4 linked regions of the Homo sapiens genome follow. The protein of the gene in region 2 interacts with the protein of the main gene of each other region in a pairwise test. Each region holds a gene or a part of one and is shown on either strand. Other genes may lie near its edges.

Evidence for each region.
Region 1: the proteins of CYB5B (region 2) and PHACTR3 interact in binary tests that used the Homo sapiens proteins (3 or more experiments, as listed by UniProt).
Region 3: the proteins of CYB5B (region 2) and CD33 interact in binary tests that used the Homo sapiens proteins (3 or more experiments, as listed by UniProt).
Region 4: the proteins of CYB5B (region 2) and KCNK5 interact in binary tests that used the Homo sapiens proteins (3 or more experiments, as listed by UniProt).

What each region holds. Positions count from the first base shown.
Region 1 is NC_000020.11:59,768,520-59,775,547, forward strand, and holds part of PHACTR3 (phosphatase and actin regulator 3), read left to right. Parts: intron 1-4,759; coding exon 4,760-4,934; intron 4,935-5,723; coding exon 5,724-5,971; intron 5,972-7,028.
Region 2 is NC_000016.10:69,419,729-69,427,631, forward strand, and holds the start of CYB5B (cytochrome b5 type B), read left to right. Parts: upstream 1-4,890; 5' UTR 4,891-4,955; coding exon 4,956-5,129; intron 5,130-7,903. UniProt on the Homo sapiens protein: Cytochrome b5 is a membrane-bound hemoprotein functioning as an electron carrier for several membrane-bound oxygenases.
Region 3 is NC_000019.10:51,235,077-51,240,541, reverse strand, and holds the end of CD33 (myeloid cell surface antigen CD33 isoform 1 precursor), read right to left. Parts: intron 5,386-5,465; coding exon 5,289-5,385; intron 5,025-5,288; coding exon of another isoform or gene 4,948-5,024; coding exon 4,866-4,947; intron 4,720-4,865; coding exon of another isoform or gene 4,711-4,719; exon of another isoform or gene 4,576-4,710; intron 1,025-4,575; coding exon 854-1,024; 3' UTR 526-853; downstream 1-525. UniProt on the Homo sapiens protein: Sialic-acid-binding immunoglobulin-like lectin (Siglec) that plays a role in mediating cell-cell interactions and in maintaining immune cells in a resting state.
Region 4 is NC_000006.12:39,219,472-39,226,499, reverse strand, and holds part of KCNK5 (potassium channel subfamily K member 5), read left to right. Parts: intron 1-7,028. UniProt on the Homo sapiens protein: K(+) channel that conducts voltage-dependent outward rectifying currents upon membrane depolarization. Voltage sensing is coupled to K(+) electrochemical gradient in an 'ion flux gating' mode where outward but not inward ion flow opens the gate.

The sequences.
Region 1 (7,028 bases), on a different chromosome or scaffold from region 2:
TGCTACCACACGTGTGGCCAGGGGCTGGTGCCCTCCCCTCTGCGATCTCACCTAATCCTCATTGTGCTTCTTCCCAGTTTTCATGAAAGAGGGAACTGCCACCTTTTGGAAGAGGTGTCAGCTGCTGAGACAAGGAGAGCCCGGGCATGAGCTCGGGAGGGCTGGGTCCCAGCCCTTGGCTCTTTTCTGGGGACCTTACTGCCCCTTATGGGGTGAATGTTCAATCTGGAGGGGACTCTTGGGTGGAAAATGCTTTCAGTGGGGCATTTTCCTTGTACACCTAACACGAATTAAGTATTCCAGTCTAACTGATGATTCTCAGCCAGATACCACAGAAACGGAGGAGGTGAGATGCACCCCACAGGGGGCCTCTTTAGCTGGGACTGCAGATGTCCTGGATGGGTTAGATGTGGGGCTGTGGTGCCCTGTGGTTCCCCAAGTAGTATTGGTTTGTGGGAGAATGTGCTGCTGGGTGGGTGGAGGGATGAGTGAGGGGGCGCCCCCGCCACCCCACCACCCTGAGACTTGGCCCCAGCTGTTCTCCCTGACAGAACATTCTCCCTTCCTGCTTTGCCTGGTCAGTACCTTTGCATGCTTGGGACCACAGCTCAAGCTGTTTCTCCTCCAGGGGAGCCAGCCCTGACCCTTGACCTCATAGCACCATGCGCCCCATCTTCCAGCATTTACCACATTGCCCCACCTTGTTTAGTGGGTTGAATGGTGTCACCCCAAAATTCCCATCCACCTGGAACCTCAGAACATGACCTTGTTTGGAATAAGGGTCTCTCAACTGCCATTAAGTTAAAGATCAAGCTGAGCTCATGCTGGATTCGGTTAGGCCCTGAATCCAATGACAGTGTCCATGTGACAGGCAGGACAGGACACACAGGGATGGGACTGATGCATCCACAGAACGCCAAGAATTTTCCGGGGGAGAGGCCTGGGACGGCATCTCCCTCACAGCCTCAGAAGGAACCAACGCTGCCAGCATCTTGATTTCAGACTTCTGGTCTCCAAAACTGTGAGAGTTGTTCTGTTGCTTTGGGCTGCCCAAGGAGCCATACACGCCTTGTCTGTTGGATGGTTTGCCTCTCTCTAACCACCTGCCCCCCAGACAGTAGTCCCTGAGAGACGGCCACACGTCTGTGTTCACTGTCAAATCCAAGTGCAGGCATAGTACAGGGCATACAGCAGGCACTCAGCAAGTGCAGATGATGGTTGGATGGATGAATGAATGAGTGAATGAATGCATGCGTGCTCTGAACCCTGTCTGTCTGCTTTCTGCATCTTTCTACATCTCTGTAGATGAATCCAAATATTCAGTCTTTATGCAACATGGCCACATAAATTACAGTACAAAGTTTGAGGCAAAACTGTGCTACTTTGCATTTTGTTATTGTCTTTGTGATAGCTCCCTTTTTCCTCCATTGAAACCTAAAACCATTTAAAGTCCATTCAATTAGCCACCATCCACCTCATTTTATTCTGGCGAATGTATAATTTGTTCCTGGCCCTCAATAACTTGGTAACCCAGAGAGTTTCCTGCCTCTCCCAAGCTTGGGAAGGTCGAGCCTCAGATGGCACAGGTCTTCATTCTGACTCCACACGCCCTAAATTCTGGCGTTCTGTCCCCAGTCTGCGGACACTTCTGGCTTCCGCCCTGCCCTCAGTTGCAAGGACATCAGGGGATACTCTGACACTTATGCGTTTCCATAGGGACTGAATTGAGACTGGGAGGTGGAGGAGGGTAGTTCCGAGCTATGGGTCCTGGCCTGGCTTCTTCCTGCACAGACTACATTTTGGTGACTTTGATTTAATTTTCTCAGTTCCTCTTTTTCCTTTTCCTTTGGGAAAAGGTTCATGTGCTTCAGCATGTGAACACTAGATGGTAGCAAAGAAGAAAGTCTCCTTACCTGGGCTTCCCTTGCTGCAGGAGGGACCCTGGCCCAACTGAGTCTCCACCCAAGGCAGGACTGCAGGTGTCTTAGTTCATCTGAGTGACTTATAAACCACAGAAATTTATTCGTCACTCTTCTAGAGGCTGGAAGTCCAAGATCAGGGTGCCGGCAGATTTGGTGTCTCTGATGAGGGCTTGCTTCCTGGTTCATAGGCCAAATTCCTGGACTTTCTTGAAAAGTCTTCATCTCTGATCACCCTCTGAGTCACTACAGGCCCATTAAGGTGGGCAGGTTCTCCTCTGTGTGCTGTGGTCCCCACCCTGCCCCCATGGAGAAATTGCAGGAGGTCCTTTGCATTCCTGGGTTTCACCTGCCTGGTCCCTGGAGATGCGTTTACCCCTCTCCCTTTTACCTCTCCTTTACCCCTGCTGTCACCTGGTCCAGTTGGTAACGCTCAACTCTGCGGGATGGGAGTCCCACAGCCTCTGCCAAGTGTAAGTGGAGCTGGGTGCGATGTGCTGTTCTCAGCCCCCACCTTTTCCTGGCAGCCTGCCCCTGAGGTGGCTTCTGAACCTCAGCTTCCTCATCTGTGAAATGGGGGTGACAAGTGGTCCCCTGCACAAGCTGGGTGGGGCGAGCCAGGCAAAGCTCTATGGGGGCCGTGGGGGCAGTGCTGGTTGTCACATCTGTGATTGACAGTGGGGCAGAGACCTGGGTGGGATCCCAGCTCCACCAAGCTGAGCGAGAGCAGGCAAACCACGCTGCCTCAGTTTCCCTATTTGTACAAGAGGGCTAGTGATTCCTTCCTCATGGGGCTGGGGTGAGAAGTAGAGGCAATGATGGTTAGAGACAGAGGGGCTGGGGGATGCTGCGTGTCACCTGCGTGTGCTCAGGAGTGGGGCACTGTCCTGAGCAGGAGCAGCCTGGGGAGGCTGAGGCCAGTGGGGAGAGGACAGCGCAGTGTGCAGAAGCTGGGGATGGGTCTCCCTGCAGCCCCTGCCCTGCCTGGCCACTTCTTGCATGGCTGGCTCCTTGTCATTTCTCAGGTCTCAGCTCAAAGTTTCCCTCTGCAGAGCAGCCTTTCCTGACCTCCCTCTCCCAAACCAGCTACCACCTCCCCCCGACCAGCCCAGTACTCTCAGCCCACCTGCGTGGTGCCCTCTCGCCCCCCTCCCTCCACCACTCTCTCTCCCAGCCCTTTTCTCTCCCTCTCCTTCTGTCTCCTTCTCTATTCTACAATCATCTGCTCTCTTTCTGTCTGCCTGGCCTCTGTCTGTCTCCACCAGCTGACGGCAGGGCCTGGCCCGTTTCCCTGTGGCCTGGCCTTGTGTGGCCAAGCAGGTGCTTGTAGAGAAAGCGAAATAACTAAAGTCCTCCACGAGGTTTACAGTTTCCTTTTGGGTTTTGAGGAATACTTTTTATTGATGCTGTCCACATCCCAGGATTGTATTGGAAGTTTGTTTCTGGTTTTTAGGGAATGGGGTAGTTTAGATCTGGTTGTTTTGCTGGTGGGATTAAAGGGATCTGGTGTTTGCACCAGTCCTGCCAGGACGCTTTTGGAATGAGAGTTTGTGCTGAACACCTAAGAGCTTCTGGGCCTGTGCCAGCTGCTAGGCTCCTGAAAAGGAGCTGATGGTCTCATTTTACAGGCAAGTAGGCTAAGCCTTTGAGAGCTTCAGTGACTTGCCCAGAGTCTTGCATACTGGGAAATGGCAGATCAAGACCAGAGGCCAAATCTGCAGAAGACAAAGCCCATGCTCTCTGCTCTTCCGGGCACCTGACACCCTGCTGGCCCGGAGCACATGCAGGAGACTGTCATTGATGGAAGGAGGGGGTGTCCCACTCATTTAGACTTGAATGAGCAAAGCCTGTTTAGAATCATCTTCAAAGTCATTTCATGTACACAAGTGTTTATTGCCCGTGTTTTAAGTGCCAGGCCTGGGGAAACTGTAGGAAGGAAGGTGGACACAGGCCTGCCCAGGAGCAAGAAACAGACTGGGCAGCGTGATTCACTCCAAGTAAGAGGAAAAGTGTCAGGGCAGGCTCAGGTCCCAGGGGACAGGAGACGAGGGATCTGATCATGGCCTCTCTAAGGAAATGGTATTCTAGCAGAGGAGCGGGGAAGCATTTCAGGCAGAAAGAACAGCCCATGCAAAGACTCAGGTTGGACGGAGTGTGGTGCCTTCAAAGACGGGAGAGATCTTCACATGCTGGAGTGAAGAGAGTGAGGTGGAGATGCAGCTAGGGAGCCGAGTGGGGCCACCCCCAGGGGCCTTGAGACTGGGCCATGAGTTCGAATCATGTCCTAAGGAAGATGGGAGAGTGATCCAATTCACCTTCTGGGGTGATCCTCCTGGCAGAGATACAGGGAGAGGGTTGGAGCCCAGAAATTTATTCCTTACTGTTCTGGGGGCTGGAAGTGCAAGCCCAAGGTGCTGGAACAGATGCTGTGGGGAGGGCAGAGCGGACCATGGTGCTCATCCAGGCTGAAGGGTGGCTGCACAGATTCTTCCGGGTTTCCCAAGAACAAGAAGCAGCTTCAGGAAGCTGAATTCATAGCAGAGAAGCAGGAAGGAGGCTTTTCTAAGCCCAGCGCCCTGCAGGGAGGATGCTGGTGCTGGTGTCTGCAAGGCTTGGCCCCTAACAGGGTTTGCCCTACAGATGGAGCAGAACTGGACAGAGATGCACCCTGGCCTCTAGCTTTGGGAGCAGGGATCCCGGTCCAGCATCTTGGCATTAGTTGGGGCCCCTCCTGGAGGTGCAGGGGAGCGTCCTTTCCGCTCATGGTCCCCAGTCTCAGCAAAACCCTTGGTCCCAGCTCCTGAAGACCTATGTTCTTGCTGCTTCCTCCCACACCCCAGGCCAAGCCACACTCTTCCAAGCCTCCAGCATGAAGAGTGCCGACCCTTCCCTCCGGGGCCAGCTCTCCACACCCACGGGGTCTCCGCATCTCACCACGGTCCACCGGCCTCTTCCCCCAAGCCGCGTCATTGAGGAGCTGCACAGGGCGCTGGCCACGAAGCACCGCCAGGACAGGTGAGGCCCTGCCCCATGAGGGAGACCTGTGCTGCCAGAATCCCTGCCTGGCCAGCCTCAGGCTGTGCAGCTCATGCCACGCCCAGGGCCTTGGCTGGGTGTCCCGTTCTACAGTCACTTTCTGAACAAGGAAGTCACATTTTCATTTTGCACCTCGCTCTGCAGATTGCATAGCTGATCTTGGTTCCCACATTCTGGGACGGGGTGCACAGTGAATGTGCACTATGGGAACCTGGCCACAAAGTCCTGTGCGTGAGCCCCTCAGGACCCAGGGTGGGGTGGGAGCTTTGCAGGAGAGACTGACTTAGAGAAAAGTGGCCGTTCCACTTTGTCCCAGGACACTGAGGGCTTCATAGTTGTCACTGGGCAAGAGTGTAAGGCAGCCTGTGCCTGCAGCTTACTCTTATTTTGGATCACATGTGTCTCATGGACTGTGAAAGATTAGAGGTAAAATAGGTAATAGGAGACAGTATGGGTTGGAGGAATATTAGACAAACAAAATGTCCTTCTCAGTTTTTGTGAAGTCCTCGCCCTGAACATTGATTGCATGTATTTTGGCAGGTTTTATTACTTGCATGTTCTGTGCTTTTCAAAACAGCATGTTGTAAACAGCCATTTGCCTTGAACTCAAATCCTCATGCTCCTTCTGGTGTGTCCAGGATAAAAACCAAGAGGTCACATGCATTTTGGGGCTGCCTCTGTGATATTCATTATAAGCTCCAAAGTCAATCGTGCTGGGTTTCTGGGTGAAGGGGGTGACCTATAACCTGAACCATCTTTCTGGTTTAGTTTTCAAGGAAGAGAAAGTAAAGGGTCTCCAAAGAAGCGGCTGGATGTCCGTCTGTCGAGAACGTCCAGCGTGGAGCGGGGCAAGGAGAGGGAGGAGGCTTGGAGCTTTGACGGGGCATTGGAGAACAAGCGAACTGCCGCTAAGGAATCTGAGGAGAACAAGGAGAACCTGATCATAAATTCTGAACTCAAAGACGACTTGCTTTTGTATCAGGACGAGGAGGCGCTGAACGACTCCATTATTTCTGGTGAGGAAAGGATGGCCCATTAAGTGTGGGGATCTCGGCCAGAGGTCTAGTGTCACCAGGGGGTCGAGGACAGAGCTCGTGCCTGGGGGAGGAACAGGTCGAGGGGCTGCACCTGGGGAGAAACAAGAGGGGGGCTGTGTCCTCTGGAAATGAGCTTCTCCTGAAACAAGCTGGGGTGGGGGTGCACAGCCAGGCTTAGAGCAAGGAACTAGAAAATACCCCGGTGAAATTGTTTTGAGAGTTGCATATTAGTTTTCATGTGTATGTGAAAAAAAAAAACAACATAAAAGTGGTGAAGCAAGTGACTTAGAGAATGCCACCCCTGAGGATGCTGTGGCGAACAGTATATAGTTGGTGTACAGATGCTCAGTGTACAGAAGTTATAGCAAAAACAAAAACAAAAAAAAACTGTAACAAGTAAAGCAGGACGAGATGGAAGCAGGGGGAGAGGGAGGAAGAGAGATTGCTCTATTGATCTCAAATGGCCGTCTCAGAAGTGCTGTGGATGGGACAGGCAGCATACGCTTGTTTGGGAGCAGATGCTCACAGGGTCCTTGGAAGCCAGCTCCGTATTTGTCCTCATGGTGCGTTCTCCCATGAGGTAATTGCTCCATCCTACCCTTGAGGACTCCGGGGCTCGGGACGATAGAGGCCTGCAGACCACCCTGTGATGAAGGGAGAAGGAGGCTCAGGCCAGGAGGAGGAAGTGCTGAGGGGGTTTCCCTCCCAGCTGGTACTGGCTGTGCGGGGCCCTCTGATTAGTCCCAGGAAGGTCCAGGGCGGCCGTGGTGTTTGGCCTGCAAGGGAAGGATCAGGAAGCGTCCGTTGCTGTTCTTCCTGGAAGCATCTCATGGTGACTGTTGCGGGCATGGGCAAAGCTCAGGCCACGTCTCCCTGGGTGTCTGTGGGGAGCAGGAAAGGGCATCAGATGTCGGTGCTGACCCTGGCTGGTACTGAAGGCATGCGGTGGGTACTGTGATGGGTGGATAGACCGGCAGCCCAGGGCTCCATAGCCTCCCGCTTCCTGCTGCTTTGGAGCCTTTCCACCGGGTCCGAG
Region 2 (7,903 bases):
AATCCATAAAATAATTACAGGAACTATAAGTGAATTTGGCAAGGTATAAGATAGTAAGTCAATGTACAAAATCAATTATATTTATCTAGACTGGCAGCAAACAATTGGAAAATGAAATAATTTCATTTATAGGGGCATTAAAAAACGAAACATTTAGAAATAAATTTAATAAAAGATGCTAAAGATGTCTACATTGAAAACTACAAATTAAACTGAAGTAAATGGTTCATGAAATGTAAGGTTTTTAAGGTGTCTTTTTTCTGTAAATTCATCTATAAGCACTTTTGTAAAATTAAGAAGCTGATTTTTTTTTTTTTCTTCTAGAAACAGGGTCTCACTCTGCCACCCGGGCTGCAGTGCAGTGGCACAATCATAGCTCACTGTAGCCTCCAACTCCTGGGTTCAAGCAATCCTCCTGCCTCAGCCTCCCAGGCAGCTGAGACTATAGGTGCCCACCACCATGCCCAGCTAATTTTTACATTTTTTTAAAGAGATGAGGTCTTGCAGGCCAGGCACAGTGGCTCACGCTTGTAATCTCAGCATTTTGGAAGGCCGAGGTAGGCGGATCTCCTGAGGTCAGGAGTCCAAGACCAGCCTGGCCAACATGGTGAAACCCTGTCTCTACTAAAAATACAAAGAAATTAGCTGGGCATGGTCGTGGGCACCTGTAATCCCAGCTACTCAGGAGGCTGAGTCAGGAGAATTGCTTGAACCCGGGAGGCGGAGGTTGTACTGAGCCTAGATCATGCCACTGCACTCCAGCCTGGGTGACAGAGTGAGACTCGTCTCAAAAAAAAAGAGATGAGGTCTTGCTATGTTGTCGAGGTTGGTCTTGAACTCCTGAGCTCAAGCAATCCTTGTGCCTCAGCCTCCAAAGTGCTGGGATTACAGGAATGAGCCACAGTGCCCAGCAAAAAATAATAACTTTTTTTGTAATAATTTTAGATTTACAGAAAAGTTGCAAAAATAATACAATGAGTTTCTGTATACTCACTCAATTTTCCATAAAGATAGCATTTTACATTACCATAATATGTTTGTCAAAAGTAAGAAATCAACACTGGCACCTTACTGTTTTATTTGGATTTCACTAATTCTTCCCCAGTGCCCTTTTTCTGTTCTAGGATCCAGTCCAGGATACTATACTGCGTTTAATTGTCATGTCTCCTTAGTTTACTTGAGTCTGTGACAATTTCTCAATCTTTCCTTTTTTTTTTTTTTTTTTTATGAGCTTGTCAGTTTTGAGGAGTACTGGTCAGGCATTATGTAGAATGTCCCTCAGTTTGGGTTTACCTGATGTTTTTCCCATGCTTGGACTATGGTTATGGATTTTGTGGAAGAATGCCACAGTGGCAACATGCCCTTTTCATCACATCACACCGGGGGTACATGCTGTCAACATGATTTATTATGGAGATGTTTTAATTTGATCACTTGGTCAACAAGCTGATTTTAAATTGTGTGTGGGGCCGGGCATGGTGGCTCATGCCTGTAATCCCAGCACTTTGGGAGGCCGAGGTGGGCGGATCACCTGAGGTCCGGAGTTTGAGACCAGCCTGGCCAACATGGTGAAACCCCCTCTCTACTAAAAATATGAAAATTAGCCAAGTGTGGTGGTGGGGGCCTGTAATCCCAGCTACTCTGAACCCGGGAGGTGTAGGTTGCAGTGAGCTGAGATTGTGCCATTGCACTCCATCCAGTCTGGGTGATGAGAGTGAAAAAAAAAAATGTATGTGGAAATACAAAGGATCTAGAATAGCAAAAATAATTTTCAAAAGTTAAGAGCAAAGCTATAAGACTTATATTACCTGATTTAGTGCCTTACAATAATCAAGACTGTGGAATTGGCACAAGGATAAACAAATAAGTCATCGGAACAGAGTAGAAATTTCAGAAGGAGAACCACACTTATATGATCAATCAATTTTCGACAGATACAGGAAAACAATTCAAGGGGGAATTGTGTTTTCATCAAATGGTGCAGGAACAAGTGGGTATCCACATGGAAAAAAAGAGGCTAAGAAACCTGCCCAAGGTCACCAAGTTTGTGAGTGGCAGGGACAGGTATTCCAAGCCAGACTTTCTGGCTAACATGTGCTATCAATTGTAAATATAAATTTATAACCAAAACATTTAGGTCACAATAATTTTTCAGTGTAAAATTCAATTTGAGGCTATACTATTTAAAAATGTCAATGTCATGAAAGCAAAAGCAAAGTTAAGGAAATGTTCTAGATTAAAGGGGACTCAAGAGACTTAGCTAAGTGCAATACATGATCCTGAACTGGATCCTGGGTCATACAGGCACACTAAAATTTCACAAAGGACATGAATGCAATAATGGAAAATAATATGGAGAGTATGTTAGATAATAATTTTGTGTGAATGTTAAATTCTCTGAATTTGAAATTCATACTGCAGTTACGTGACAATATGTTCTTATTTTTAGAAGATACATGTAGAATTATTTGGCTGTAAAGGGTGGTGATATCTGAAATAGTTCAGCATTATTAACAACAATGATCAAAATAATATGGAAAAAATCAAATATTGAAAAATATTAACAGTTGGTAAACCTAAGCTAAAAGTATATGGTCATTCATTGTATTATTCTTGTAACTTACTTATTTGAAATTCTAAAAACATTTTCAAATATAATGTTACAGGTATATATCACTTAAGTGCTAGAATTTGTAATTTTTTTATTTTTTATTTTTATTTATTTATTTTTATTTTTTTGAAACAGGGTTTCGCTCTGTCATCCAGGCTGGAGCACAGTGGTGCGATCATACATCACTGCAGCCTCGACTTCCCAGGCTCAAGCCATCCCCAGATCTCAGCCTCTCAAATATCTGGGATTACAGTTGTGTGCCACCATGCGTAGATAATTTTTGTATTTTTTGAAGAGACAAGAGCCTCACTATGTTGCCCAGCCTGGTCTTGAACTCCTGGGCTCAAGTGATCTGTCCACCTCGGCCTCCCAAAGTGCTGGAATTACGGGGCTTGAGCCACCACATTCAGCCTGTAAATGTTTTTATTTCTTTCAGAGATTTTGTTTCTTATGTTATCTCTCTACTCCCAATGCCTATCATAAGACTTGTAACAGTAAATAGTAAATGTCTGGAATAAATGTAAATATTTGAATCTAGAGTTTGTGGAGGATCCTAAGAATCTTGTGAGATTGCTCTCATAGTGTCAGTCTAACTAGGGAGGTAAAATACGTAAAGTTAAAATTTACAGACGTAGCAGGCTTCCCAAAATAGTAATATGCTTTCTTAGGTACTACAAAGGGATGGAAGCACTGGAGCTCAAAACGGTAGGAGAAGTTTGAAAATAGAAGAAACTGAAGAGGAACTTGAAAAGCCGGTAGGCATTGAAAGGAAGAGGAGTCCTTGGGACAGCAATTGAGGGTAGAATGTGGAGTATCCCATGTTTCTACCACCATTCAGAATCCGATTTTCAAATGAATTCTGTGATGATCAGGATCAATCTGCACTATTTTAGTCTCTAAGTGATCTAAAATTAACTTGGTGGACCTGGGATGACCACGGATGTGGTTTTAAACCAGCAGGTTTCAGAGTCGGGGCGGGTGCAACAGGCTTATAAAGGGAATGGTGGAAAATATTATACGTTAGTGAAAGAGGTTGCGAATGGATTGTGGAGAGCCCTGAATGGTAGACTGCGAGAGTGACAGGATGAAAACGACGACATCATAGGAAGAGCAATCTGTCAGTTGTAATGGCAGTTAAAAAGTGGCGCACAACACTGTACCTTAACCAAACTTGGAATTCCAAAGTGCTGGGACCTCTAGCGGAGAGCAGTTGAGTTCAATTCTATTTTAGATCACGTAGAGACTAAAATAGTGCCGATTGATCCTGATCATCACAGAATTCGTTTGAAAATCGGATTCTGAATGATGGTAGAAACATAGGATACTCCACATTCTACCCCCAATTGCTGTCCGGGACAGCAATTGCCTTTCTAATCGACTGCCATGTTTAGCGATTACTATGCGCCAAGCGCTTTACAGGCACTCTCATTAAAATAGGCAAACCGGGCCAGGCGCGGTGGCTCACGCCTGTAATCCCAGCACTTTGGGAGGCCTACGCAGGCGGATCACCTGAGGTCAGGAGTTCGAGACCAGCCTGGCCAACATGGTGAAACCTACTCTCTACTAAAAATACAAAAATTAGCCGGGCGTGGTGGCGCATGCCTGTAGTTCCAGCTAGTCGAGAGGCTGAGGTAGGAGAATCGCTTGAACCTGGGAGGCGGAGTTTGCAGTAAGCCGAGATCGTGCCACTGCACTCTGGCCTAGGAGACAGAGCGAGAACTTGTCTCAAAAAAAAAAAAAAAAAAAAAAAAGGCAAACCCCTCTGTAAGAGAGTGCTTTATCAAGCCCATTTTACTGATGGGGAAATTGAGGAGAGACGGGATTGGCCAGATCACGACCTGGAGGCAGCAAAGATGTAAAATCAGGGTTGGGATACAGGCTGCGCCGGTAGTGTAGGGGATAGGAACTTTCTGAGACTCAGGAGAAAGCCACAGCGATGGGAAGGGAAGCAGAACACTGGAGACCCTAAAGGCCCACAGGCTGAGAGAAGTGGTACCTCTCCTGAAGTGACACCTGTCAGCACGCCTCTTTTGGGCGCCAGTCCAAAAATCGCGGTATCTGATTGGCGAGGTTGGAGGGGGCTGAACGACCCTAATTGGTTAGTTGGACCTCGAACCAGACTTTCATCTGGAGGATCGGGCGAGGAGTGGGCGGGATTTCGAACTGAGCCACTCCCTTCATTGGTGAAAAGAAAACGAACCAGGAACTATTCGGAAGTGTGATTGGCTGTTGCTAGGAACCGTCTCAAGGCCTTATGGGCCCTGGTTACGGAAGCCGAGGAAGGCTGAGCGCGGGCTCTCAAGGAAAGTAGTCGCGGAATCTCAGTTAGCGGTGGAGAGGCAGTATGTCCGGTTCAATGGCGACTGCGGAAGCTAGCGGCAGCGATGGGAAAGGGCAGGAAGTCGAGACCTCAGTCACCTATTACCGGTTGGAGGAGGTGGCAAAGCGCAACTCCTTGAAGGAACTGTGGCTTGTGATCCATGGGCGAGTCTACGATGTCACCCGCTTCCTCAACGAGGTGGGGCCTGGGAGGTGGGAGGCCTCTGAAGCTGCTGGGGCGAGGGGTGAAAAGGCTGTGTGGAGTGTATGTGGGAAGGAAGGGAGGCTTGGCTGGGGGCGATAAGGCGTAAGAAAGGGATCACGACCCTCAGAGGGAAACTGGGGTGGGATTGGGGGAGGGCTTTAGTTTGCATGCATTTCCAGTCAGCTCCGAGTTCTGGTGCCTTATGTAATATCATGTATTACTTATGTGTCGAGCATTTGCTGTGTGCTCAGCTAAACTCTAAGCCATCATTATCTTTATTTTACAGAAAGGGAAACTGAGGCTCACAGGTTGAGGACTCTCAGGGCCATAGAGTTAGCAGCTTAGATCCGTTGAACCTAGGTCTGAAGTGCACCCACATCTGTGCTTTTCCAGTGTGCCTTCTGAAGTAATACCGGTTTTGGTTTTCGTCTTCTAGAGTAGAAGCTGAGATTTCTCTCCACACGCTTCCCCATCTTGATTATGCCTCCACTGTTTTTTTTTCCCCCTAATCTGAGTTGACCTTGAGGCCAGAAACTCATAAATCAACCCTTTTTTTTTGTTTTTGACTCATGTTTTGTCATTTTTCTTAAATATTCAAGACTGTTTTATTTAATCTTCAAGTCTGTTGCATTACATCTCATTTTAAAAATTATTTTTGAGACCATGGTGCAACTAATTTTTTTTTTAAGGAAACAGGATAGACTTCTAAATATTTAAAACTTTATTGAGGTGTAATGTACATACGTAAATTGTGCCTATCTAAAATGTACATTTTGATGAGTTTTGAAAAATGTATTCATCCATGTTAAGACATAAACCATTTCCATCATTCTAAAAAGCTTCCTTTCCCTTTGCAGTCATTCTCTCCCAACCCCAGGCAACTAGTGATATGCAGCCGCTAAAGATTGGTTTGAAGCTTTGATTTTCGGTGTGTGTATGTTTGAAGCTTTGATTTTCGGTTTGTGTGTGATCATTTTATTTTGAGCAATAGATTAATGACTTGTGAAAGTTCACTTCTATTTCTCTGAAGCAAATATACTAGTGAAATATTTTTTCGATTAATTTGGGGCCTAAAAGAGAAATCTCTGCATCCTGACTTTTAATTCTAAAAACTTTTAAAATTTAAAAGTTTCCCCCAAAGAACATTATTTTTAATAAATCTTAATAGTGAACAATAATTTAACAAACTCAGAATTTACTAACTTCTTGCATTTGTATGGTGTATGGCATTTTATGCTTTTAAAAGTGCTTTCCGGTCGGGCGCGGTGGCTCACGCCTGTAATCCCAGCACTTTGAGAGGCCGAGACGGGCGGATCACGACGTCAGGAGATCGAGACCGTCCTGGCTAACACGGCGAAACCCCATCTCTACTAAAAATACAAAAAATTAGCCAGGCGTGATGGTGGGCGCCTGTAGTCCCAGCTGCTCGTGAGGCTGAGGCAGGAGAATGGCGTGAACCCGGGAGGTGGCACTTGCAGTGAGCCTAGATTGCGCCACTGCAGTCCAGCCTGGGGGACCCAGCGAGATTCCATCTCAAAAAAAAAAAAAAAAGTACTTTCCCGGCCAGGTGTGGTGGCTCACGCCTGTAATCCCAGCACTTTGGGAGGCTGAGGCGGGCGGATCACGAGATCAAGAGTTCCAGACCAGCCTGACCAACATGGTGAAACCCCGACTCTACTAAAAATACAAAAATTAGCTGGGCCTGGTGGTGGGCGCCTGTAATCCCAGCTACTCAGGAGGCTGAGGCAGGAGAATCACTTGAACCTGGGAGGCGGAGATTGCAGTGAGCCATGATTGCACCACTGCACTCCAGCCTGGGCGACAGAGCGAGACTCCAAAAAAAAAAAAAAAAAAGCTAGTGGAGGGTGACTTGGATAGTAGTGATTTTTTTTTTTTAACAGAGGTACAAGTAACAGGTTCAGAAAGATCCTGGTCATACAATCAATTAGTAGCAGATTTGACAGATCCCTTGATTTCTCTTGTCTGCATAGCATTACTTCAAAATTCTAGCCTTAGCTATGACTTCTGGTATTTGCTTCATAGTAAGTTTCATGCTAAAGCATGGTTCATAATGGGTAGAAAATCAAGTTTTTTGGCTGGGCGCAGTGACTCATGCCTGCAATCCCAGCACTTTTGGAGGCACAGGCGGGCAGATCACCTGAGTTCAGGAGTTCGAGACCAGTCTGGCCAACACGGCGAAACCTCGTCTCTACTAAAAATACAAAAATAAGCCAGGCTTGGTGGCACCTGTGATCTCAGCTACTTGGGAGGCTAAGGTAGGAGAATCGCTTAAACCTGGGAGGTGGAGGCTGCAGTGAGGTGAGATGGTGCTGCTGCACTCCAGCCTGGGTGACAGAGTGAGACTCCATCTCAAAAAAAGAAAAAAAAAATCATGTTTTTCATTTGTGGTTTTATTTCCCTCCATTTTTTTTCTTGATTGATTCAGAATAGATGGTGAGCTTGGAGGGAACACTCAGCCCTTACAGAGAGCATTAATTCAGTCTCAAGTAATAGTTGCTAACCTGTTTCTTTCTTTTTTTTTTTCCTCTGTGAAGATTCCAGAAGTAACTAACCTGTTTCAACCACATGCTGATATAGCCAGAGACATCACTAATGTGCCAAGGTTTCTCTTGGAGCTTGAGCTGCAGCTCTTTACCTGCAGTTTTGTTTTTTTTGTTTTGTTTTTTGAGACAAGGTCTTACTTTCACCCAGGCTGGAGTGCAGCTCACTGCAGCCTCAGTCTCCTGGGGTCAAGTGATCCTTCTATT
Region 3 (5,465 bases), on a different chromosome or scaffold from region 2:
ATTTTGTCGGAACATGGCCATATAATTCATTTTCAGATTGTCTGTGGCTGCTTTGTTGCTACAATGGCGGAATTAAATAGTTGCAATAGAGACCACATTGCTTGCAAAACTGAACATGTTTACTATCTGGCCCTTTGCTAATACTGGTTGACCATCTCTGACTTAGAATGTCACATTGAGAAGCTTCAAATTATTCCTGTGGGTTGGGGATCTAGGGAACTATTTTCACTATGGTCAGCTCTGAGTTTTAGAAAATTCCCCAAATGCTAATATGTGATTTTCCCTGTAGCAGGACATAAAGAAAGCAGAAATCCGAGTAGGGGACAGGTGAGATGAAAAGAGAAGATTCAGGAGTGGAGAGAGATGATGTTGGAGGGTAAGTCAGGGAAGACATATATGGTGGGGTTTTGAGCAGCAAGTGAGATGGACATGTTGCTGATATAGTTCCAGAGATCAAATATCACTAATGACTTCTGTTCAAGGGGGAAGGAACCAGTATGCACCGAACTCTCACTGCACCAGGACTGGTGTTTTCCATGTGTACCTTTATTTAATGCTCACAGCATCCCTATGAGATAGGACTTCTTATACCTACTTCACAGAGAAGAAAATGGAGACATGGAAGGTTAAGGAGCTTGTGTGACATCATACACTTAGCAAATGAAAGAGCACAGATTTGATTCCACGACTCTCTGCTTGCAAAGTCTAAGATGATGTTAATATAGCAGGAAACTCACATAATGTCTATAAACCCATTGCCTGTGGGGTGTTAAATCTCCAAGAATCAGCCTTTGGTCCCCGACCTGTAGAGGATGTGGATCTTCTAGCTGAGCCTGATGCTCTTGTGGGTTCCTCACTGGGTCCTGACCTCTGAGTATTCGGTGGAGGTGTCCTTGGAAGGATTCATCCCATGAAAGTTGAGGGAAGCATAATGCAGCTCCTCATCCATCTCCACAGTAGGGGCGGCACCTGAACAGCTTGAGGTTTCAGTGGGGCCATGTAACTTGGACTTCTTCTGGTGTTTCTTATGGAGAGGAAAGAAGGGGGTTAGAGCAGGGCAGTGAGGAGGGGGACCAGGAGAAGGCAAAGAGGGTCAATGAAGTAAATTTGACTCTGACAGAACATTTATTCACTCTTTCATTCTTTCATCAAATGTTAATTAATTAAGGCTCTACTTATTCATTATCTAACACATGTAGCACGTATTGATTGATTCGCAATTCTCTTGAATACTCACAGAGACTAATGTGGAAAAATTCTGGGCAGCTACACTGACATCATCTTTGGCATCTATTATTTTAATCCATTTTACAGACCAGGAAACTAGGTCTCAGAGAGCTTAGGTAATTTCCAAAGTCACACATCTGTTGACCCTGAACTCGGTCCCAGGTCTCTGGGACCTCCTATGTGCTGGGCACTGGATCCTCAGGAGGGAGCAGAGCAGAGCAGGGGCCCTGTGATTTCCAGTACTGCAGGGGATGAAGACAGAAACAGACTGGTAATTGCAAATTGTGACAGTGTGCAGATGAACAGGAGAGAGTAGAATGATGGAGGTCTAATAAAACCCAGGCTTTTCCTTGTGGAGCTCATGGTGTGGTAGGGGAAGCTATGGGAATGCAGTTAGTTCAAGTGGTGCAAAGCCCTACACAAACAGGGAACATGGTATCATAAGAGACACAGGAGCAGATGCTGGAGAAATGGCAAGTCTACAGGGTACAACCATTTGCTGGTGCAGGCCCATTTCTTGGTTCTAGATTTGGGGCAGTGTTTCTCAAAAGAGTCCTTCAACTCACAGTTTCTGCCTCTTCTCCTCCCATTCTCTCTTGAACTCTCTCTAGTCAAGAGATCTTCCTCCAGCAGAAAAATCAGATCTGCTTTGCTGTCATACCACTTAGCTACATTCAAATAGCCATTTCTCAGATTCCATCTTACCAGACTTACCAGCATTTGAAACAAATGACCAACCTCTCCTCCATGAAGCCCCATCTTCCCTTGGCCACCAACACTACAGCCTGCAATTTCCTGGTCATTGGCTCCTATTCATTCTCAGCTTTCTCACCATTTACACCTCATCTCCCTAACATTAAATGCTGGAGGGTTCCAGGGCTGTGTCTGTGGACCCCTTCTCTTCTTTGTAGATTCATCGATTATTGGATGTTGATAGGGAAGCTCCCAACCTCTGTGTCTCCCACGTGGAGCCCTCTTCTGAGCTCCAGACACTTGCCTGCTACTTGTCATCTCCACATGGATGTCTCAGAGGCACCTCAAACTTACGGTAACCAAAATAATGTTTGATATACACTTGAAAATAGACTTCTCCTTCAAGGATGGCAATTTTAATCATTGGCAATTTGATTTTTTAAGTTTGAATTCTGAGTTAACCACATGAACATCATCATTGGCATCTATAGACATCTATGACATCTATGGGGTCTTCTTGGACATCCATGACATCTATGATATCTGTGGACCCACCTATGACATCTGAGACACTTATCGAGCAGAGCCCGTGAGCTATCTTTGCTCATGCCTTGCATGCACTCCATCACTCCACTTGCAAATACTGTTGACTCCACCTTCAAGATGTATCCGGAACCCAATTTCTCCACATCAGATTCATTATTCTTACTTGGGACTAAGTCTGAGTCAGTCATCTCTTGGCTTGATTATCTGTGTATCTTCTATTCTGGTATCTTCTCTTCTATACTACATACTAGAGTTTCTCACAGAGCAGCCAGAGTGACTCCCACTAAAATGAGTGTCAGTTCATGTCACTCTTCTGCTCTAAACGCATCAATAACTATGATGGACTTAGGATCCTGCAATATTTGCAGCTCCTATGTCTCTTCAACCTCATTTCCTACCTACCATTGTTCAGTCCACACTCCACCCCCAACACGTAACTCTGCCTTATCCACACTGTCCTACTTTGTTTCTCTAAAACATCAGATGTGTTCCGGCCTCAGAGCCATGGTACTTGCTGCTTCCTTGATGATTCTCTACTGCTCATACTGTACTCACTTTCTTTCTGCAGGTGTTTGCCCAAAGGCCATTCTTTGGCCCCCAGGACTGTCCAATCCGTTCTCCCATTTCATTTCCTGCCATAGCACTTATTTCATGCCTATTTCATGTATATTTGCACTGCTTATTTGTTCATTATTTTCATCCCTTTCCCCAATAAATGTTAAGCCCCCGATAGGAGGAATATTTTATATTTGTAAACTGTGTGTTTATAAAAATACAGAATGGCACAAGGACCTAGAGCAATTGGCAAATGGGATTATATAGATATTTCAGAATGAATGGGTGCTGGTTGACCCTGTGTTCAAAAACTTTACTGTGGTGTTCACTTTAGTCAGAGTTAAATAAATTAAAAAAAAAATCAGAGCTTGAAGGATGCACTGGAGTTGGGCAGGTAGCTATTAGGCATATGAGGAGGAGGGGACAGCCCAGCAATGATTCTGAGATGAGAAAGCTTGCCCTGCTTGAGGTGATTGAGTGGCTAATGTTGGGGGAGCATAGCACTGAAGGGGACTCTGGTTTTCCTGCTCCAAATGCCAGACCAAGTTGTTGGAATGCCAATCTTTCAGGAGTGTAGAGAAGCAGTGCATTTCAAACTTGGGAATGATGGGACAATGACCTTTTAGGGAGGTGATGCTAATGTTCTGGAGAGGAGAAATGGGAGGTGAGGCTGCAGCAGAATAAGGAGTAAGAGGGGCTCTCGGCTCAGGAGTGGTTGTGTTAAGCCGTGTTCAGAGGAAGCTCAGACATGCATCGTAGCATACTGGCACAGGAAGAGATGGAGGACTGGGACAGGAGGGGGCCATGTCTCTGGTTGGGTAATGGGGACAAGAGTGCCATCAGCGAGATGGAGAACCCATCAGGAGAAGTATGTTTAGGGGTGTGTCAACCAAGTGTTTCTGATGTTTTGACATCTGGGGCATTACTGACCCTTGAGAGACTGCCTTTCCCAAGGATAGTAGATTTCTAGAGCTAATAAAGGACTTGCATACAAGTGCACCTTTCATGTGCAAACCAGTCAATCTAAAGCCCACACTACCAGCTGGATCCTTTATTGAGCTCTTACACTCCAGACCACAATCCTCCTTAATAAACCCAGGGCCATGTACCAGACAACTAGAGACAACTCCTATACCCCAGAGTCTGCTGAAATTGTTCTAAGTAGCCAATCCTAAACCTGCCTAGCTTGCTTACCCTGTCTTGCCCATTCTTTTCCATGAAAGCCACAGTGAAGGCTCTTGTCCCATTTTCTCCTTGCTCCCTCTGCTTCCTGACTGACCCTGGTGCTTCTCCATATGGCCTTGCATGGTGTGGTGTGCCCTCTCGGGAACGGTGAATAAGAAACTATTTTTTTTTTCTTTTTGGGACAGAGTCTCTCTCTGTCACCCAGGCTGGAGTGCAGTGGTGCTATGTCGGCTCACTACAAGCTCTGCCTCCCGGGTTCATACCATTCTCCTGCCTCAGCCTCCCAAGTAGCTGGGACTACAGGCGCCAGCCACCACATCTGGCTAATTTTTTGTATTTTTAGTAGAGACGGGGTTTCACCATGTTAGCCAGGATAGTCTCAATCTCCTGACCTCGTGATCCGCCCGCCTTGGCCTCCAAAGGTGCTGGGATTGCAGGTGTGAAACACTGTGCCCGGCCAAGAAACTATCTTTTCAATGGCCATCATCTCCTGATCTGTTGGCCTCAACGTACCTGAAAAATATTAAAACCTACACTGTTAAACAGGAGGAAAGACAATAAGCTCAGTTCTGGAAATGCTGAATGGGGCATGACGGTGGGCCACATTGGGAGGAGGTGTCTGCAGGACAGACTGGATGCCAGGATGCCCCATCACTCACCGGGGAGGCTGACCCTGTGGTAGGGTGGGTGTCATTCCTGCCCACTGCTGTCCTGGCTGCTTTCCTCCTGTGGGTCTTCACTCTGATGGGAGACACCAGGGTCTTTGAGCCTGGTTTTCTCAGGCTGTGGGGCCATTGTTATGAGCCTGGAATGAGGGACTTTGGCAGGTAAAGGGTGGGATTAATCCAGGAGCCCTCAAACAAGACTTAGTCACAAGGTCTCCCTCTACCTCCCACTCCTTGGACATCTGAGATCAGGGCCCTGGAATAGACCCACGCCTATCCCAGTGGCCACAGGCTGGATTCTGTACATCATCACACCCCCTGCCCTTTCTCCAGCCCTCACAGCCCCTCCAGGACCCTTCTACACCAGGTCCATCCTCTTCACCTCTGGCCCATGCCTGACCCAGAGAAAATGCTCACATGAAGAAGATGAGGCAGAGACAAAGAGCGAGCAGGGCTGTAACACCAGCTCCTCCAATGGCCCCATGAACCACTCCTGCTCTGGTCTCTTGTTTCCCTGCAGACAAAAAAGATTTGGGGTGAATTCTAATCTAGATAAACAGGTATGTGTATCCTCCTCTCCAGCATGTAGAGAGG
Region 4 (7,028 bases), on a different chromosome or scaffold from region 2:
GTGCAGTCTGAGTTGGGGTTTCTCTTACCCTGAAAGTTGTGTGTGCTCTTTCAAATGTGTGAGAAAGGGAGTTAAGTCAACTTTCTTTAGAAATACCCCCCGAATTGTCAGATACTTCCTTCCCTCCGCTGTGGTTGAAGTGAGGTGCAGGCTGACTTTCAAGTGCTCAGTGACCCGCCAGCCTGGGACCACGTGATCGTCCTCTTTCCTGTCTTCAGAACCATCTTGAACCCTTGCTCTCAAGCAAGATCTTTGGTGACTCATTCTCCCAACCTCTTCCTAAATTGCAGACTCACACAAGGGAAGTTAACATTTACAGCACACCTACTCTGTGTTGGGCATTGTGGGTGCTATTATCCTCATTTTATGAGAGAGGGCACAGGCTGGTTTTGCCATCTGGCTCGGCCATTTACCCATCAAGCCATGTAACTTAACTTTGCCTTCCTTTCCTCATCTGCAAAATGAGTGTTTGGTGAGGCTCCAATAGAGTAGAAACATTAGGCAAGATGTCTATAAAAAGTGAACAGGTCTCCTGACCTTAGCATTTATTGAGGAAGGCAGCTTTACCTACCTGCCTTATTTCAGGTACTCTTTACAGTATGTATTCAAGTAAGCAAGCTGAAGCCCAGAGAAGATAGAATGGCCACAGGGACACCACAGGAGGCACAGCCTATGGGGCGGGACGGGGAGGGGCAATGACCAGGCAGTCTGCCCCAGGAGCTTGCACCTCCCTCTTGGGCCTGTGAAGATTGTTGCTCTGTAACTGAGCTTAGGAAATTGGTTCAGCTGGACCCTGATCTGCTGGAAAATTCTATTTTCTATTTCCCCTAGCACAGGTAATGGCATACAGGCGTCTCCTGTGTTGTTGCCTGGCTGACCCAGCACCTCTGTTACTGAAGTAATACATCAGTCCACCCCTCTGCGCTTCTCATTTTGGAAGTCCCCAACCCCTGTCCCACCAAAAACAGTGGGGGTGTGATTGAAGGGGAGGAAGGACAGCCCTTCTCAACCTTCTGCCTCTGGTGGGCAGTGATCAGAAACAGGAAGGATTTGAGAGCCCACCGTGCACCAGACCACTTTGAATAAGCACTTTATATACATTCTTATTTTAATTTAATCTTGCAGGCCACCTCATAAATGAGGAAAATTAGGGGAAAAGCCAGTGTAACTTGTCTGGGATCACATAGAGCGGAGTCAGTTTTCACATCTAAGTTTCATGTTTCAAAGTACATGGAAATTAGCAAGCATTTATTAAGTATCCACCATGTGCCAGACACTGGGCAAGACTCTCAGGATACAAAGAATTAGGCTACACTCCGAGCTGCTGGAGAAAAGGATACATAAACCCACTGGGAACAAGACAGTGGGTGTGGGCTACAGAAGAGGTTTTCAGGAGGTCGCTTAACGAGGGTCTGGTCCAGCCTGAGGGGTCAGGGAGGGCTCTCAGGAGATGACCTCAAGCCAGAGTGGGGTCTTGGATTAGAAAGAACAGCTGGGAACCTGGGAGGTCAAAGCTGCAGTTAGCCTGGATTGCGCCACTGCACTCCAGCCTGGGCAACAGAGCAAGAGCTTGTCTCAAAAAAAGAAAAAAAAGATTAAAGAAAAAAAAAAACCTAACTGGTAAAGGAAGGGAGAAGAGACTCCTAACAGAAGATGGAGAGTGGCCCTTTCTCCTAGCCTGGGGAAGGCAGACTGCAGGTTTCTTGCTGTGGCTCTAGAGAGTCCCTTGTCTCCTGAGGGTGGAGCAGGGTTGCCCTAGGTCCTGCCCTCTGTCTAGCATCCCAGACCAAAGTCCAGGTTTTGCTTGACTGCTCATATAGCTGACCTGTTCCCGGAAGCCTCTTGGATCCCACTGGCCTCCTTCCTTCCTAAGCTCCAAAGTGCTTTCTTGTGTTCTAAGGTTTTCCATATGTACCTCCTTTCATTTTCTGGACCCTTTGGACTGGTCTATACACACTCCAGTCCAAAGTAGTAAGGCTAGTTCCAATTTTGAGGTTCTGGCACTCTTTTAACACCAATCCTGCTCCCCAGATTTGAAAAATAAAACCATGAAATATATGACAAAATTACATGTGGCCAAAATGCTTAGAATGGGGTACATTGAATTTTTTGGAAAGTTGAGGGTTAATATAAACACCCTCTTTGTCTCAGGCCTTGTTGGAAATTGTGAAATGCACTGGTCCACTTAACCGCCTTTGTAAGTAAAAGGAACACAATAGCTCTTTTGGTTATGGAGGATCTTGGAGGCCTCCACAGCCTTGGGTCCGAGCTTGAGTTCTTACTGGCTAGGACTGCAGAAGTGGAAAGTGGATAAGCTGGTTTTTTGAGAGGAAATTGAAGAGGTCCCTTCCTAATGGCTTGTTTCTTATTTATGTTCCACTCAAAAGTTGAGGGTAGCCAAAAAAAAAAAAAAGCCTTAGTCTGCCTTAGTTAACTGCTCTGGTTAGAGTTTTTTAACAGTGAAAGTAAATGTTTATTACATTGCTTTGAGCGTTTGACTAGAACCCTTAGGATGATTACAGATGGCACAGTAATAGAGAATTATTGAGGGTAGAAATTAGCAAGTGTTGAAAGTTTCCAGTGGGGGTGGGGGATGCAAAGGAGGTGATGATTGTTGCTTTTAAATATTTTCCTGGGGTTTTGCCCTATTTATAGTCTGGCGTTTAGAAGAAACAAAATCCCCCGGTTTTGGATGCTGTGCTTGGCTGGCCCTGACCTCGGGCCAAAGGCTTTCATCTTGAACTTGGCTGTTTGCTGGCAGATTGGGCTCAGCCTCTGAACTGTGTGTGTGGTTGGTGGTGGTGGGAGGAGGGAGAGAAGTGCAAGGTTTTGGGGAGCAGAGGAGCCAGGCCCCTGAGTGGAGCCTCCAAGACAGTCTTTGTCCAAATTGGGATGCTGTATTTGCATGGTGCTGCAAGAACCAGTTGGCCAGAACTGGGGTGGTACAGAGAAGTGAGGTAGGAGACCATAGGAAAGCACATGAAATAGGTTTGCCTCCTTCCAATATTCCTTGTAGGGAGTGGAGAAGATGGAAGCGAATCTCTTTGAGATTTCATTGAGTCCCCAGGGACCTCTGGAATAACGCAGAGGAACCCTTGCCTGTTCAGTTCTTCCCAAGTATGGCTGTACATAGAGAGAGGATGTGCTGCCCTCAGTAGGGATCTTTGTCCAGCTGCCACTGCGGGGCCTTGGTGGTGTTGCTGAAGGAATCACCAACCAAGCAGTATGTCTGATGGTTGTGGGAGTGGCCTCTGAAGCCACACCATAGTTTGCTTAGAATAGTGTATGGCACATCGTAAATGCTCACTAAGTGTTAGCTGCCATTTCTGCTATGCCCAGATATTCCTATGCTGCAATGGAGCGGTCCCTGCACAGGTGTGGTGGGAATCTAATTGGTATTACAAAGAATCAGGAAGGTCTTCCTAGAACAGAGAGAACGTCAACTGAATTTTTTAAACGCAAAAAACACAGAAACATATAATTTACCATTTTAGCCACGTTTAAAAGCCCAGCTCAGTAGTGTTAAGTATATTTACCATTATGAAACAGATCTCCAGAGCTTTTTCATTTTGCAAAACTGAAATTATACCCCCTTCAACAACAATTCTTCTCCCTCTCTACCCAGCCCCTGGGAACCACCATTCTCCTTTCTGTTTCTGTGAACTTAACTACTTTAGATGTCTCCTAAGTGGAGTCATATAGTATTTCTTTTGCTTTGTACAGTGGTACAACCACTGTGAAAAATAGTATGGAGTTTCCTCAATTAAAAATAGAACTACTGAGTGATGCAGTGCTCCTACTTCTGGGTGTGTATCAACCAAACTTCTAAAGAACTAGAAAAGGGATGGGGATGGTGGCTGTCTCTTGCCCATAGCCCTTGGGGAGGTGTTCTGCAGGATGGACCCAACAGGCTGTAGCCACAGGCCAGGGAGGTGAGAGTCACATGACTAAGCTCTTCTGGGTTGCCAAGGAATTTGAACTCCATCAAATTTTTGCAATTTTCAAGTAGGGGAGGGAACAACATTTCAGAAAGTTTCCTCCACAGCCATTTACAGCTTAAAAGAAGTGGAACATTCTACTCTAAAATAACGACATTTCTGTGGGCTGATCCCTTCACTCTGTGGGTGTTCTGATAAGGACACCCCCTCCTTCCTTTCTCCTGCTGATGTGATGTAGTGTGGGTTTTCCCAGAAAGCTCATATTGCCTACAGCCCCCAGAAAAACCCACTGACCTTCACACTCTAGTTCTTTTCCTACTACGAGCCCCTTAGGTCCAGGTCTGGGTCCCTGGCCCAGCCAAAGACATTCCGTCTCCCGTTTGGTGACCTTCCCAGATTGCATCTTCGCTATCCCTTTATGTAGAAGTGGGGGTGGTGTGCTCCAGTTGTAGCTCTGTTCAGCTGCCTAAGGCCTCTAGGCTTCTGGTGAGCAGTTATCCCAATCTCTGAACCTCAGAGACCTGGATACAGTGGAGTTGGAAACACAGAACGGGCCCTCCCTACTGGCTATCCTTTCTGTGCTTGATGAAACCTCAGATATTGGAGAGTCTTTAACCCTCTGGAGATCAGTGCAGCTGAGGAAAGATAATTGGGCCGCAGTGGTGAAATGAGAGGAAATACAGTCCAAAGTGCTCAGTGGTGGGTTGTAGATGGAAGAGGCTGGAGAGATGGGCAAATGTTGAAGGGGCTGGGGGGATTCATTTTCTGTTTTCTGAGGCCTGTAGCCAAACTCCTTGGCCTGTGGAAGACCTGGCTCCAAACAAAACACAGCCCCTGCCCTCAGGGGGCCCCTAACCTGGAGGAAGAATAGTAAGGAGCTGCTACCAGATTGATGTTGGTAAGTGCACCTGGGGACTCCAGGTGTGCACCAGGGCGAGAGATGAATTTTTACTTCTGCGCTTAGAAGAAGGCAGGCTTGGAGGGTGAGTGGCATGGGCAGTAGCCCTGTGAGCATTCTGTGGAGTGCCTACCAGGTGCCAGACATTGGGCTGGGATGTTACCTGTGTCTCCTTGAACCAGTTTTGTGGGCTAGGTATTGCTATTCCCATTGGACAGGAAACCAGAGGCCAGGTGACTTGCCTAGGTCTACACTGTTGGATAGAGGACTGAGATTGAATCCCTCTTGTTGACTTGGAAGCTTCGGTCTTGTCCATAAGTGGAGGTGGAGTCGGGGGCTGGGAGTGACAGGCTTGGGCAACCAATAGTTACAAGCACTTACTTGGCCACAGGCTGTGGGGGCCACAGGCTGTGGGAGCCACTGATGTGCATCATCTCACTGAATCATGGCAGCCACCCTCTGCAGTAAATTCTGTGATCAGCTCGACCTCACAGTAGAAGCAACAGAATGGACCATAGAGATTGAATAACTTGTCTGAGGCTATGTAGCTAGGAAGTGGAAGGATGAGGTTTTGAACCCAGAGCTCACACTGTGAACTATTCTCTTCTATGTGAGGCTACCTTGAAGGTGGGGCAAAGCAGGGAGCAAAGCATAGAGGCGAGAAAGTGCAGGGCATATGTGGTGTCCTCAGAGTCTTAGGGTGCATGGGGCTAAGAGTTCAGGATACTGAGCTGTGTGACTTCATTGAGCTAGTCATCTCATCTGCAAAATGGGATAATAGTACGGTATGTCCGTCATGCCCATAGGGTCTATGTTAACATGTTAGTGTGTTTGGCACATGTAACAGGTGACTGGCTACGTATTAACTGCTGTTCCTGTACCCAGTTCCTCTGTGTACTCTGTCCCTGACACCACCCTGCAGGACCCATCATGCAGTGAGCTCCTAATCTGGAGATGGGGACAAGGGAACATGATAAAACCCATCAAGTTTCTCCTACTGGAGTCAGTCACCCACTGTTTTCTGTGTCCTGCAAATTAACCACCTAAAACAGTTGATGGTCAACACCTAAAAATAGGGACGGTTTCCTTCTTTCTCTCTTCTAGCAGGGCTCTGCTCAGTCCTGGCTTGTCCCAGGCCTTGGTTAAAAATTTTCTGGAGAATTCCTGCGTCCAGATGGTCTCATGGGTATTCTCCTGGGATGATGGTTACCCAGGGTCTGGGATCAGAGCTGGGCCCTCACTCGAGGCAGACACCACCCACCTCCCCTCTCATCTTTGATTGGCTTTGAAATGTGCATTCTTTTTCCTCTCCTCCATCTAAATATTTGGGTTTCCTGCTGAAATATTTAGGCAGGGCTGTGTACTTCTGGCTGTTGTCACCTCCCGTGCCCCACTGTAATCTGGCTGCAGCTGCTTAGCTGGGCCCCTGCTATGAGCGGGGATGCTTGCCCCCTGAGTCTGGGAGAGAAGCTGTGCAGCTGGTAGCAGGACCCCCTTTGTTCAACGGTGTAGTCTCCAGTCCTGCAGGGCTGCCAGGGGCCTTGTTGGCCACACTGGGTGGGGAGGACACAGCAGAGCCCCCTTCCATTTGTCTGAGTGCTTCTGTGCTTGGGGCTAGGGATGAGGAACCCTCATCTGAACTACTGTGTAGCAGAAAACTGATTCTAACCTGTGTTCTACTTTTACCTGTACTCCGGTTTATGCTGTGTGCCCCTGGCCATATTTTCCCTCTCTGGACTCGTCCATTCATTCAGAAAGGCTTGGAGTGCTAGTTAGGTCCAGCTAGACCATTTGCAACCTTCGTGGGCAGTGGCCATGTCTTCCCAGCCCTGGGCCTGTGTTGCCAGGCCTAGCTCTCAGGATGCTCAGTGAGTGTGTGGATTTCAGTCTTGCTCAGTTTGTTGTGTCCGTCTGTCCAGCACTGTGCTCAGCTCAGGGGGATGCCAAAAGCTGTGTGGCCCTTTTGGTTGGAAGTCTAGTCAGTGCAGCCAAGCCTCTTGCAAGGTCACAGCAGAGTGAATGAAGCCAGGTGCCCCAGGCCCAGACTCTGGTCCTTGGTCTCACAGGCTCTAAGTCATGGAAGGGGTAGGGGTGCCATTATTTTATTTTTATTATTATTATTTTTTGAAACAGAGTCTCACTCTGTTGCCCAGGCTGGAGTGGAACCTGGTTAAGGACAGGTATTCAAGTCA